Linked DNA regions of Homo sapiens. The protein of the gene in region 2 interacts with the protein of the main gene of each other region in a pairwise test. Each region holds a gene or a part of one and is shown on either strand. Other genes may lie near its edges.

The links. Proteins that work in one complex are often made in the same cells at the same time.
Region 1: the proteins of ETV5 (region 2) and AMH interact in a two-hybrid assay, tested with the Homo sapiens proteins (one large-scale study listed by BioGRID and IntAct).
Region 3: the proteins of ETV5 (region 2) and COP1 interact in binary tests that used the Homo sapiens proteins (3 or more experiments, as listed by UniProt).

Annotation. Positions count from the first base shown.
Region 1 is NC_000019.10:2,247,472-2,252,654, reverse strand, and holds AMH (muellerian-inhibiting factor preproprotein), read right to left. Parts: upstream 3,333-5,183; 5' UTR 3,323-3,332; coding exon 2,911-3,322; intron 2,319-2,910; coding exon 2,176-2,318; intron 2,017-2,175; exon of another isoform or gene 2,004-2,016; coding exon 1,895-2,003; intron 1,807-1,894; coding exon 1,647-1,806; intron 1,557-1,646; coding exon 698-1,556; 3' UTR 582-697; downstream 1-581. Other genes in the region: JSRP1 (junctional sarcoplasmic reticulum protein 1), read left to right, coding at 1-326; SF3A2 (splicing factor 3A subunit 2), read right to left, coding at 4,109-4,888, 4,993-5,061. UniProt on the Homo sapiens protein: Plays an important role in several reproductive functions. Induces Muellerian duct regression during male fetal sexual differentiation. Also plays a role in Leydig cell differentiation and function.
Region 2 is NC_000003.12:186,098,682-186,103,338, reverse strand, and holds part of ETV5 (ETS translocation variant 5), read left to right. Parts: intron 1-4,657. UniProt on the Homo sapiens protein: Binds to DNA sequences containing the consensus nucleotide core sequence 5'-GGAA.-3'.
Region 3 is NC_000001.11:176,196,755-176,201,411, forward strand, and holds part of COP1 (E3 ubiquitin-protein ligase COP1), read right to left. Parts: intron 1-4,657. UniProt on the Homo sapiens protein: E3 ubiquitin-protein ligase that mediates ubiquitination and subsequent proteasomal degradation of target proteins.

The DNA.
Region 1 (5,183 bases), on a different chromosome or scaffold from region 2:
GGGAGGACCGTGTGACCCTCGCAGACCGGGGACCCAAGGAGAGGCCTCGGAGAGAGGGGAAGCCGCGGAAGGAGAAGCCGCGGAAGGAGGAGAGACCTAAGAAAGAGAGGCCGCGGAAAGAGGAGAGGCCACGGGCCGCCAGGGAGCCCCGGGAAGCCCTACCCCAGCGCTGGGAGTCACGCGAAGGGGGCCACCGGCCGTGGGCACGGGACTCCAGGGACGCCGAGCCCAGGAAGAAGCAGGCCTGGGTGTCCCCGAGGCGTCCCGACGAGGAGCAGCGGCCTGGGAGTCGCCAGAAGCTCCGCGCAGGCAAGGGGCGGGACTGAGCCGGCCCCGCGCCGGAGTCCAGGGGCCCCTTCTGGACGCCCCGCGACTCTGGCGAAATAAAGCGAGTGCTGCGGCCGCAGAGTCACCTGCTCCTTTACGCCTGGACCCGGCACCAAGTCCGGGGCCTGAAAGACGGTGGTGGGGCGCTTCAGGCAGGGGAGAGACAGCGAGCGCTACAGGGCGGACCCGGGCCGTGCGCGAGGAGAGACGGCAAGGGAGGTCCCACGGGCCCCCTAACACGCACGGACACCCCAGCCGGTTGCTTGCTGGTCTTTATTGGGGCGATGCTTGGGGTCCGAATAAATATGGGAAGGGGCGCGAGCTGGGGCGCGTCCGGACCCTCGGGGCAGGAGTCCGCGCGGCGCAGGGGTCACCGGCAGCCACACTCGGTGGCCACCATGTTGGGCACGTGGTGCGCGCTGATGCGCTCCTCCGACAGGCTGATGAGCAGCTTGCCCGCGTAGGCGGTGGGCACGCAGCAGGGTGGGCGCGCCAGGGCGGCCCCACGGACCTGCATCTTCAGCAGCAGCACCACGTGGTTGCCGTAGCGCGGGTTGCGGTCGGACTGAGGCCAGCCGCACACGCCCTGGCAATTGTTGGCCTGGTAGGTCTCGGGGATGAGTACGGAGCGCTCGGCGCGGAGGTCTACGCTGAGCTCGCGCAGCGCGCACGGCCCGTCGGCGGCGGTGGCCCCCGCGCTGCGCTGTGCCCGACCCGGCCCGCGCGGATCCCGCCCGCGCCACTCCACGCGCAGGCCCTGCAGCGCCTTCAGGAGCAGCAGCGCTCGCAGGGGATCGCCGAGGCCGCCGGGGCCACCTGGGCAGAGCGCGAGCAGGCGCGCCAGCAGCGGGGCTGTGGCCGGAGGCAGACCCGGGAGGCTTCGCAGCTCGGCAGCCGCCGCTTGCAGTTCAGCAGCCACGCGGCGCGCCAGGGCCGTGGCCCACGGCGCCGACGTGGGGTCGTGCAGGGGCGCAGGATCCCCGGTGGTGGCCGCAGTGGGCCTCAGCAGCAGCAGCAGCGGCTCCTCGCCGTCGAGTAGGCGCTCCAGCGCCGCGGGGTCCGACAGGTTGACTAGGCCCTGCGGGAAGCCGGCCAGCGCGTCCGGATCCAGGGCCAGGCGCGGCGCGGAGGCCCGGGCCGGGGGGACCCGCAGCGCCCGCACCAGGCGCGTGAGCGTCTCCAGGAAGGGGTCTGCGCTGGGTGGCGACTCCTCGAGTTCCGCGGATGGCCTGGAACCCGCAATTGGAGGAGTTGAGAGCGGCCACGAGGCCACGCCGCCCCCGCCCGCTCCTGCCCCGTGTCCCGGTGCCTGCGCGCACCTGGGCGGCGGGAAGGGCACGGTGTCCAGCTGGCCGTGCGCAGGCAGCGGCGCGGGCTCGGACCGCGGCAGCAGGAGCAGGGCCGGGGTCATCCGTGTGAAGCAGCGGTGGTCGTCGCCGAACAGCAGTGCCTGCAGCCGGGCGGTACTCAGCCGGGAGTCTGCGGTGGGTGGGCACGCGGCTGGCTCAGGGGCTGGGGGCCCGGGGGCAGTCGACCCGGCTCCCCGTCCCTCTCCACGCGGACCTACCCTCTCCGCGGGGCTGCAGGGTCAAGGCCAGCCCGGAGCCGCGCCAGGCCCCCGCAGGGCGGTCCACCGCTAACACCAGGTAGCGGGTGTCTCGGGAGGGGCAGAGGCTCTGCGGAGACCAGGGCTCAGCCCGGCTGGATGGAGGCTTACCCAGCCCCGCTCTACCGGTCCCCTTCCTCCCATCGCCACTGGTTCTACGCTGTTCTCAGTACTGCAGACCCTGCAACAAATCCATGCCCCCCGCCACGGCCCGGGCACTGCCCCATGCAACTCCCTGGTACCTGGGCACCCGGCAGCCCAGCCCTCGTCACAGTGACCTCAGGGCCAGGCCCAGGGTACAGCACCAGCAGCGCCAGCTCTGGGGGGCCAGCTCCTCCAGGCGGGGGCTCCTGGAACCTCAGCGAGGGTGTTGGCTCCCAGGTCACTGCAGCCGGGACAGCAGGGGACGCCTGAGCCATTGAAGGCCACACCCCCCGGGAATCTTTGGGATCTGTCCCTGCCGCTCTGGCCACTGTGCAGGGGACCTCAAGCGGGGGACAAGGGTGCCCCTCTTAGCTGCCTTCCTGCAGCCAGGGAGCGGTGACGGCAGGGGCAGGCAGGGGCTGCGTCTGAGGCTGTGGGTGGGGCTGCCGCCCTGGGGTCTCTGGGTTGGGGTGCCCGATGAAGCCCCTTCCCCGCAGGGAGTATCTTAGGCCAGCGGCCCTGAGAACAGGCTGGGGCTGTGGGAAGAAGGGTTCCACTGGCCCCGAGCCCTGCGTCGTCTTCAGGGGTGGGGAGAAGGCAGCAGCTCTCTCCCTGGCACCGAGGCAGGGGCAAGTCTAAGAGCTGGGCTTCGGGGACAGGACAGAGTGTGGTGCCCACCTTCCAGGCCACGGACCCGCAACCCAGTCCTAGGAACAAGACCACAGCCTCCCTGCCCAGGGTGGGGGCTCTGCCAGCCCCTGATCTTCCCTAGGAGGACCCGGCCCACCTGAAGGAAGACGGCGGTGCCAAGCTTGGGGCTGGGCCCCACATACCTTCCTCCAGGTGTAGGACCACCAGGCGCTGCCCCCCAGGGTCCCGCAGCCAGGCCCCCAGCCGCCGTAGAGAGGGCAAGGCAGCCTGCCTGTCACCGGTGTTGCAGACCCCGAAGGTGGCCAGGTCTCGGGGGCCCCAGCGGGCCCTCTGCACGGCCCCCAGGAAGGCCTGCTCATAGGCGCTTAGAGCCCCCACCACCCGCAGGGGGGAGCTGCTGCCATTGCTGTCCCCGCCCAGTGCCACCAGGCACAGAGGCTCTTGTGGGCTGCCTGGAGGCCAGTCCAAGTCTTCTCGGAAGATGAGGCCACTGGTGCCCACAGCTGGCTCCTCTGCTCTGAGGGCCTCAGTCCCCAGCAGAGCCCCCAGGGCAGACAGCACTAGGGCCAGGCTGGTGAGAGGCAGGTCCCGCATCGTGGGTGCTGCCAGGGGCTGGGCTGCCTGCCTTAAGTGAGCCGAGTGGAAGGTGGGGTGTTTGTGCAGGACAGACCCCTATCTCCTCTGCCGCGACCTTGGGGGACAGTGCCCGGCGCCCCCACTCCAGGCAGAGTGGCCTTCTCAAAGAGCCCTTTCTGTCCCTGGCAGCCTATCTCCCTCCCCAGTGATAGAGCTGGGCCTGATGTGTCAACATGCCGTCCTTGAGGGCCATCCCCAGAAGACACAGGAGTGGGAACCAGGCTGGGAGTGACGGCCAGGCAACCAAACTAGACAGCGCTGGGGGCGGGGGGCCCAGATGTCCTGGGTGCTGAGGTGTGGGCCTGGAGGAGGAGGGTCCCAAGTCAGTGGGGGCGCCCTGTCCCTGCTCACCCTCCCCACCCCTGGTGGGCTATCTGGAGACCCCAAGGATATCGTGGAGTCTGCTCTTCCCTCCCCAGAACAGGACCCCAGATCCCCTCCTAGCTGGCTGGTGGGGTCTGTCCTCCACCAGGCCATCTCCAAGGTACAGCCATCTCTCAGGCCTCCCACAGGTGTCTCCTGGCGGGCCCCAGGCCCTCCCCAGTCGGCCCAAACTGGGGGATGGTGCTGTGCCTGGCACTCCCACACACACTGACACAGTAGGGCGGCGCTGCGGACATCAGTGCACTCAGGGCTGGGGGAGGCTGTTTAATGAGCGGGGGGCAGTACAAAAGAGCAGCCTTCTCTCAGTGGGAAAAGGCAAGAGCACCTGGCGCTGGGCTTGCTGGGGGAGGGAGCAGCTTCTCAGTTGGTTGGGGGAGGGGGAGGTATGTTCCCTGGGCCTTCGGAGGGAAGTGGGGGCCTCAGCATTGGGGGCATGGGAGTTGGGGGGTGCACCCCAGGATTTGAGGGGTGAACTCCCGGAGGCTGAGGGTGGACCCCAGGAGCCGACGGATGGACCCCGGGAGGTTGGGGGTGGACCCCCGGGGCCTGAGGGTGCATCCCTGGGGCTGGTGGGTGCACCCCTGGGGCCTGAGGGTGAACGGCGGGGGCTGCTGGGTGCACCCCCGGGGCCTGGGGGTGAACCCCCGCTGATGGGGGAGGATGGACCCCTGGGGCTGGTGGGTGAACCCCAGGGGCTGGTGGGTGGACTCCGGGGGCTGGTGGGTGAACCCCGGGGGCTGGAGGGTGGACTCCAGGAGCTGGGGGGTGGACCCCAGAGGTTGGTGGGTGGACCCCAGGGGCTGGGGGATGGACGCCAGGAGCTGGGGGGTGGACGCCAGGAGCTGGGGGATGGACCCCAGATGCAGGGGGATGCACCACTGGGGCCGGGGGGTGGACCCCTGGAGCTGGCGGGGGTAGCTGGGGTGGTCCCGGGGGCCCTGAGGGCGCAGGCCCTGTGGGGGGCATGGGTGGCAGAGGCAGGCCTCCTGGCGGGGGCGGTGGCAAAGACTCAGGCAGCGGTGGCCGAGGGGGCAGACCGTTCATCAGCGGGGGTGGAGGCCGCTTCACCCCAGGGGGGCCAGCAGGGAGGCTGGGTGGAGCCGGGGGCTTCTCCATCTTAAAGTGGAACTGGAGGAAGAACTAGAGAGACGGAGAAAGGTTCAGCAGGCACGGGTGGGGCTAGGGCAGGGCTAGGGCCGCCAGGGCTGGGTGGGAAGGAGCCAGGCTCGGGGCGAGCCACTCACCTGCTTGGTCTCCCGGTTCCAGTGTGTCCAGAACTTGCCCTCCGCCTTGTCGATCTCTCTGCTCGGCACCTGGGAGGGCGGGGGACAGAGAGGGCTCCTGGTCCCTGTGACCTCAGGGCGACCATCAGGCAGGGAGCCCGAGGCACTAGCCTCCCCAGCCCGGACTCTACCCTGGGAGCCCAGGAGAAGGC
Region 2 (4,657 bases):
TTATCTGTGGGAATAGGCTAAAGTGAAGAAATCAATAAATGTGTTTTGGCTCTTTAGAAATAATTTCTGCTCAGCAAATAGAATGTGCTAAGTTCTTTAATTAAAATTCCATACCTCAAGTGGAGGTAATTTGGGAGATGTTTCTGCTTACCAAGTATGATGTTTTTTTTACTTTGCTTACTTTTTGTTTTAACTGCCTAAGGTTGAGCCTTTCTGTCTTTTAAGGATAAAAGAGATGGTTGACTAGCCTAGAAAAGGTCTTCTAATGATTCTTTCCCTCTGACTTTATTTCTTGAGGTAGAGCTTCAAGAAGGGATAGATTCAAATAGAATAACTTGCTTAAGAAGCAAGGCAAGAACACAAATGTGGGTGGTGCATCTTTGAGCCATTCATTCTTGCAAAAGCAAGTTTGTTTGCCTGCAGTTCAGACCAACAGCCAGAAGCATGAGGAGGAGCTGGCAGAGCCCACAGCCGGCTGCATGCACTTACTTTTCCATGAGCGCTTTCCACAGCCTCGAGTTCAGGACCAGCTTCACTCCAGTCATTTTCTGGAAGAGCTCGTGATTTTTTTCAGGGGAGGGAAGAAAACTCATTCAAATTTAATGAAACCTTATGAGTTGGTTTGACTCACTTAACCAATGAATATAAGCCAAACTTAGATTTGCCAGGGGAAAGCAAACCTTTTTTTTTTTTTTTTTTTTTGGAGAGAGAGTTTTGCTCGTCACCCAGGCCAGAGTGCAATGGCGCAATCTCGGCCCACTTACTGGGATGTCCACGTCCCAGGTTCGAGCAATTCTCCTGCCTAAGCCTCCCGAGTAGCTGGGATTACAGGCACCTGCCACCATGCCTGGCTAATTTTTGTATTTTTAGTAGAGACGGGGCTTCACCATGTTTGCCAGGCTGGTCTTGAACTCCTGACCTCAGGTGATCCGCCCACCTTAGCCTCCCAGAGTGCTGGAATTACAGGCGTGAGCCACTGTGCCCGGCCTGTAACAAATATTCTTACCAGTGGCCACTGGTAATACACTTTCCTATTAATAATGATTTGATAATTTTCCATTGTATATGTGTAAATTTATTGTATACATGAAAGAAAGAGAAATACTAAGAAATGTAGGTAATATTTTTATTTTGGAATGTCAGTTTTAAAGATTATGGCTTTTTTTTTTCTCTAAACACTAAAAGTTCAACTTCTAAAGAGATTATATTTTGTAAGTTTCTTAGAATTGGGTTTCCTGCCCATAGGGATACATCCTTAAGTCTGATTTGAGTGAATGAAACCATTGCTTTTATATCTTATAGAAATGCCCAGCTTACTTCTAGCTGTACAGATTTCACCTCTACCTCACACATATAGATATCAGTAAAGCATGGAGACTCTGAAAGGTCAAATTCAAGGGAATAGAAATCTATAGATCATAGGGATTCTACCAGTGGACCTCATTGTCCCTTGGTCCTAAGAAGTAACTCTGAAGATCTCAGATTGCTTGAGTTGGATGTCCTTTGTAGAGACAAGCTTGCCCAGCCCCCTCCTTTCACAGCTATTCCCAAATAGCTGAAGAGACTGACCAGTAGTGGGGGCAGATGGGAAGGTTTAGGTGAAGTAAGAGGAAGATGTATAAAATAATATTCTTAAAGAAGCTCTCACAAAGCTGCAGAGCCAGGGAGTAGTGGCATATTCAAGTGTATTCAGGGTCTCCATTATTTCAGATACCTGGAGATGGTGTTCAGGAAAGCATCTGGGAGGCCTCTGGCTGTCCAATTCAGCACTCACTTCTCTTCCTTCTATGATCCTGAGAAAGTTACTCAATACCTTCATGCTTTGAGTTTTTCCATCTAGGATTTGGAAGACAGAGAGTAATTATAAAAGAAAAAAATTATAAAAAACTGACATATTTAGGCTCACACCTGTAACCTCAGTGCTTTAGGAGGCCAAGTCGGGAGGATCTCTTGAGCCTAGGAGTTCGAGGTTACAGTTGAAGCGAGTAGTGATCACACCACTGTACCCCAGCCTAGGTACCAGAGCAAGACCCTATCTCTAAAAAACGAAAACAAAAGAAAACTGCCATGTTTCCTAGAAGACACCTTTCGTGTGTATACAGATAAAACTGTGTACATATTTCCTATATATGAAAAAGTGTTTGTGCATGTGTATATATCTATGTAACTGTGTATGTAGCTAAATGTGTACCTTAACACATAGAGCGGCTAAACCAGGGAATCTGGGTCAGTGCATAGATGTATGTACATATTTACTACACATTTTCATAGAACTAACTATGCCATGGATAAGATTGGAACTCAAGAGTGTTTCAAAGTCGGGGTAAGGTGATGTGTTCCATTCATTTTTCTGAACTGACTGGGTACTTAAAGAGTGTGTTACTAGATTTTAGCATATATAAATAGCAGTTTTTTAAATATACATTTTGGGTCTGATTTTTAATCTCACTTATTAATTTCAGTTATGATATTATAAATATATACCTGTTAGCATCTTGAATAACTAAGATATTTTATGCTGAGTAGAGAGCATGATAAAAATCTTATTTCAAAGTCATGGCCTCCATACCAAATACAGCCTAGAGAATTGTTTTAAGATCCAAATGACCCCATTTTCCCCTTGAAGTGTTCTTTTTAGATCTGTGTTTCAAAGAGAATGGAACAACTGGAGGAAGTACAAGTAATTTCCTAAGGACCAGCTAATTAACTGATAAAATCGACTTTTCATAAATACATTGCAATAGACGGCTGGGGAAATAGGATTAACTGTTATGACAGCCCTTGAGCCTAAAACACATTGATCTTAATCCTGTTTCACGATGAGATTATTCAGCTGGATTTCTTTATTAATGTGTGAGTTTAGTACAGTAGAGGCAGTGCCTTTCCTTTGGAGAGGGTACATCATTTTGGTCTTTGGTCCTAGGTGTGGTGTAGCAAAACACCACGTTTTCTTGCTTGGGCCACCTCTATTCAAAAGGATCATCCTAAAGTCTTTTTGTTTGGCAAGGTAAGAAAGAAAACAGTGGGCACTTTAAAAATAAGAGGTTTGAGGGAAAACAAGGCCATTGGTTTATACTTTTCAGGAATCAGTAGTTCTGAAGGTAGAAAAGAATGCTGATGAAAGCGTGAGGAAAACATGGAGGAGAGATTCTTTGACTCCAGGTTTTACAGTGTTACTTTCAAAGTGTTTGTTAGTTAGCCCAGTACCTTACTGCTGGGAGGGTGCTAAATGATTTGAAATCCTTCCTGTTTTGATAGCCTCAAAGATTCTTAGACTCAGTATTCTGAAGGACCCAAGACCTACAGTACGCATTTACTTAAAGGAGCCATCTGTTTTACAAAATCTGCTTTCGTCTACCTTTAATTCAGTTAGGCTTATTTAAAACTGAATTTTTCTCTTACCCTTCTGTGTCTCTGCGCTGTTAGTCATCTAACAAAACCCAGTAGGCTTACCAGTCCTTTGTATTTGGTGAGAAAGATTTGGGACGGGGAGTTACATCTGTGTCAAGATCACTTGTGTAGGTGCCAGAAGTAACAAAATCCTGGCATCCATGAAGAAATTACCATTTATCCCCTCCTCTTTCAGCATTCTTCAGTTTTACAGGAGTAAGGCATGGGTAGCATAATGAAGCCGAAAATGTGTACTGTCTCCCATTTCTACCATCTAGTAGTATCATTGTTTTAATTTCAGCCCTAGAAAAAAATGTTTCTTGGTGGTGGGGTGGGGTGTGTGATTCTCTGCCGAGAAACTGTTCCCTCCACACATTTCTTGGGTTTTAGTGGTGGTAAAGTACATCCAGCCTCAGAGGCTGACAGCCCCCTCTCGGGCATACGGCTGCCCTTGAGGCAGCTTGGGCCCCATCTGTGCCCTGGCACACAGTGCTTCTCCACTTGGAATCCAAGGAGCTCAGAGGCTTGTCATGTTGCAGCTCCCAGCTCTTGGACAAGTGCCAGGCATGCTGATGCCATTACCGGATTAGGTTGCTTTTTTAAAAATTCATTTTGTGAACTCATCAAGCTCATTTAACAGAGGCTTTGGTCGTCAGTTTCTATCATTGTCCTATCCCTCTAGGCTTGGCTTAAAGGAGTGGCAAGATACCAGGCCCCTAGTATGTGCCGGCACTAGTTAGAGTGTGTATGTATAAATTATAACCATAATGTAAGTACACCTTTGGGCCTGGCAGGCAAATGACAGTGGGTTAGCAACTCAGATGTTAAAGGGAAAAGAATTCCCCGTAAGAGGACTCTGCATAGAAAATAAAGGGGGCTCCCTTGTTTAAAAAGAAAGAAGCATCTAGGGGAAAATTGAAGCAGAGAGTGCAAGATTCCAGGGAGCAGGATAAGATCTAGTTATTAAAAGGCCAGGAGTTTGAGGCTGATCTGAACAGCCGAGGCATGGAATGGGGATTCTGTGGTCAGAAGGACTTCAGAGAAATGCTTCCAGTGGCACTGAGTTCGCTGGAGGGGACATGAGGGCAGGCAGTGAGAAGAAGCATACATAAGACATTTGAAAATAGCCAAATATGTGATGAAAAAAAGGAAACAACCATGAGCTAAAATTTATCTCCTGGATTTGCTTTTCATAAAGAAGTATGCTTTTCCTTGAAATAAAGTCTGGTTGTCAGACGGGCTCCATCCGCTTTCCCTCAGGGTGATT
Region 3 (4,657 bases), on a different chromosome or scaffold from region 2:
ACTGGCCAGGCACAGTGGTTCATGCCTATAATCCCAGCACTTTGAGAGGTCAAAGCACGGGAAGATCACTTGAGCCCAGGAGCTCAAGACCAGCCAGGGCAACACAGTGAGACTCCTGTCTCTACGCAAAAAAAAAAAAGAGAAAAAGAAAGAAGAAAGAGAAAGAAAGAAAGAGTGAAACCAGCAGGAGGGAGGGAGGGAGGGAAAGAAAAAGTGAAACCAGCAATAATACCTATGTTACGGGTTAAATTGTATTTCCATCCCTCGCAAAAGAAAATCCCTATATTCTAACTCCCAGTATCTCAGAATTTGCATTTGAAAATAAAGCCTTTAAAGAAATAATCAAGGTAAAATACAGTCATATTGGTGGACCCCAATCCAATACAACCAGTATTCTTCTAAGATACAGGCAACATGCAGACTGAGAGGTGACAAAGCTATGACACAACAACAAGTGGCCCAACCTAGGCAAGATGGCAAGACCCTCATCTCTATTAAAAACTTATAAAAATTATCCAGGTGTGGTGACACATGCCTGTAGAGCCAGCTACTAGGAAGATGAGGGAGGAGGATCCCTTGGGCCCAGAAGTTCGAGGATGCAGTAAGCAGTGTGATGGTGCCACTGTACTCCAGCTTGGGCGAGACAGCAAGACCACCTCTTTTGAAAAAAAGAAAGGAAACAGGCCTCAGAAGAAACCGAATCTGCCTACACATTGTTTTGTACTTCTAGTCTCTAGACCTATGAGAAAATAAATTTCTGTTGTTTAAGCCACCTAGTCTGTTGTATTTTGTTACGGCAGCCCAAGCAAACCAATACACTGTGATATGAAAACCAGAAAAAAATTAAAAGAAATTCACAGACCAGTATCACTCACTAATAAAGGTCCAAAAAATCCTTTTAAACAATTACCCAATCAAATAAATCCATTAACGTACGTTCTTTAAATAGGGCATATAAATTTAAAAGATGTAAAAGTATATTCATATACAGATAACATGACTGTTTTCTTACAAATCCTATAGGTTCTACCAAAAAATTATTAGAACTAGTAAGTAAACTTAAAATTTCATAAAATACAAGGTCAACATAAAAAAAGTGTATTTACATACTAGCAACAATTAGAAATCGAAATTAAAAGAACAACATTTAGAACACCATCAAAAACATAAAATACTTAGGGGTAAATTTTAAAAATATGGTGAAAAACCTCAACTGAAAAGCATAAACACTGCTAAGAGAAATTACAGAGGACCTAAATAATTGGAGAAATATACTATGTTCATGATTCAAAAGATAATATTAAGATGTCATCTTCCCAAATGAAATCACAGATTCAAAGTAACCAACATTAAAATCCTACATCCTTTTTTATAGAAATTGGCACGCTAATCCTAAGATTTATGTGGAAATGCAAAGAACATAAATAATCAAAACAACTTTGAAATAAAGGATAAAAATTACACTACCTGATTTCAAGATGTACTATAATAATACCATAATCAAAACAGTGTGGCACTTGTGTAGGGATAAACATATATACACCAACGGGACAGAATAAAAATTGCAGAAATAAACTCATATATATGGTTAATTTTTGAGAAAGGTGCCAAGAAAATTCAATGAACAGAGATGATCTTTTCAACAAATGATGTTATAATATTAATGAAGCCTTCAACCCTTACCAAACACAGTGTATAAAAACTAACTTGAAGTGGATCATAACCATAAGAAAACTATAAATCTTCTAGTAGAAAATATACAAGAGAATGTTTTCTAATTTCATGTTAGATAACTTCTTAGCTAGAACACAAAAATTAAAAATAATAAAAATCAATTTGGACTTAAAACTGAAAACTTTATCGATACATTAGAAAAAAGAAAAAACTTTTGCACTTTAAAAAATTATTAAGAAAATGAAAAGATAAGCAACAGACTAAGAGAAAATACCACAATACACAGGTCTGACAAAAGATGTATGCAGAATACATAAAGAACACTTACAACGCAAGATGACATGCAATTTTAAGGGAAAAAATGGGCCAAAGATCAAAACAGACATTTCACAAAAGATATGCAAATGAAAAATAAGCACATAAAAATATGTTACATAACAATGTGATAAAACTACATATCCACAAAAATGACTAATATTTAAAAGACTGAAAACACTGAGCACTGGCAAGGATGTGAAACAATTAAAAACAAATAAAACAATACAAGAAATAAATACAAACCAAATAAAAGAACTTTTAATTGTTGCTGGTAGAAATGCAAAATGGTGGCCGGGTGTGGTGGCTCACACCTGTAATCCCAGCACTTTGGGAGGCCGAGGCGTGGGGACCATGAGGTCCAGGGATCGAGACCAACCCGGCCAACACAGTGAAACCCCATCTCTACTAAAAATACAAAAAATTAGCTTGGCATGGTGGCGGGCGCCTGTAATCCTAGCTACTCGGGAGGTTAAGGCAGGAGAATTGCTTGAACCCAGGAGGCAGAGGTTGCACCAAGCTGAGATCGTGCCACTGCACTCCAGCTGGGGCGACAGTATGAGACTCCCATCTCAAAAAAAGATAAAAAAGAAATGCAAAATGGTAGAGGCAGTTTTTAAAAAGTTTTGCAGTTTATTTTAAAACTAAACATACACTTGGCAGAGAACTCAGCAATTCACTACTAGATATTTTTACCCTAAAAATGTGAAGACGTGTCTGCACAAAAACCTGAATGCTTACAGAATTTTCTAAATAATAGCCAAAAACTAGAAACAAGTCAAAAATCTTTTAACTAGCAAATATATAAGCAGTTCATGTTATATCCATATAATGGGATAATACTAAGCAATTAAAAGAAAAAAAACAGTACACTCAACATCATCAGTGTATTTCAAAACATTATACCAAACGAAAGAAACCAGACACAAAAGACTACCGACTAAAGGACTCCATTAATATGAAATTCCAGAAAAGGCAAAATGACAGCAATGCAAAGCAGATCACTGGTTGCCAGGTGTTAGGTGTGAAGGTAGACACAGAGTATGAAGTGCTGGCAAAAGTGAACTTTCTGGAAATGTATCATATCTTCATTAGGGTGGTGACTGCACAGGTGTATTCATGTGTCAAAACTCATTCAACTACACACTTATGACCAGTGACTTATTTTATGCAAATTATAACTTAGTAAAGCTAATTTTAAACAAAATCAGCCTCTAAATAAAGGCAAGGAAATGGGTGGTTAACTTGGGTAACCATTTGTAATAGTGGTTAAGAACCTGACCTCTGAGCCAAATTGTCTGAATATAAATACTGGTACCACCATTATTAACCGTGTAACTGAGACAAGTTATATAACCTCTATGGGCCACATTTCCTCATCTACAAAATGGGAACTATAAGAGTATCTACAGCAAACAGTTGTTGTGAAGATTAAACAAGTAACGTAAAACCTTTAAAATAGTGCCTGGCAAATAGCAATTTATATTTGAGCACTTATTATTATGAGTATTTGTCCCAAACTAATTGTCAGTACAACACATTCCATCTTCACTTGAGTGGACTTGGCATTTATGAACGTTTGAGTTTCAAATATCTAAAAGAACCCCCAAAACAGTCGTAATTTTTACAAAGCCTACTTTGTCTCATTATCTCTATTTAGAGCCAAATGCCCATCTGTGAATTAATACTAAAGACAGAGGATTCCAATGCACTAGACACTTGAGCATGGATCATGTGTTCCAATTCTGAATTTGGGGAAAAAATGTACCACCCCAAACCACACAGATTAGGAAAGAAGGATGGATTCCCAATGGTTACACCAGAAATACAATAAACAGAAATCAGATCACCTACTGCATTCTATGTTTCACTTTATATAGAAACAGAGGCAAAATCAGTTCATAAAACTTAATTGTGAAAAATGAAAGGACAACTAACATATTTTAAGTATAAAGAAAAACATGTTACTCTCAGTGAATATATTGTTTGAGAAAGTACCAACCTATCTGAATAGAACTTGGCTCATACACACATAAAGAAAGAGGACAAAGAACAAGTAAGGTGGAGGGCAAAGACAAGTCTGCACAAAAACCTGAATGCTTACAGAATTTTGTCCTACATACAACATCACATATAAAAACAGATCAAGAACTTTAAAAACAATTTAGCAGAGTTTCACTACATTGCCCAGGATGGACTCAAACTCCTGGAGCTGAGACTACAAGCATGCACCATCATGCCCAACTTAAAAAACATTTTATTTGGTATACAGGTTGAATATCCCTAATCTGAAAATCTGAAATCCAAAATCATGCAAAATCAAAAATTTTTTCAGTGCCAACATGACTATCAGAGGAAATGCTCACTGGAGCATTTTGGATTTCAGATTTTTCAGATTAAGGATACTAACCTGGTAAATATAATTTAAATATTCTAAAATTCGAAAACAAAAACCAAAAAAACCCCTAAAATCCAAAACACTTCTGGTCTCAAGCACTTCAGATAGAGGATACTCACCCTGTAATACAAATTTTAACAGGAAAAAGACGATGGGCTAATTCCACCGTCAAAAAAGCCTTTCCTCCCAAGCTGTGGAAGTTTTCTGAGGAAAAGGGTAGCAGGTTAAAATAATTATATAAAATATGAAAAAATCACCATTAAGAAAAAA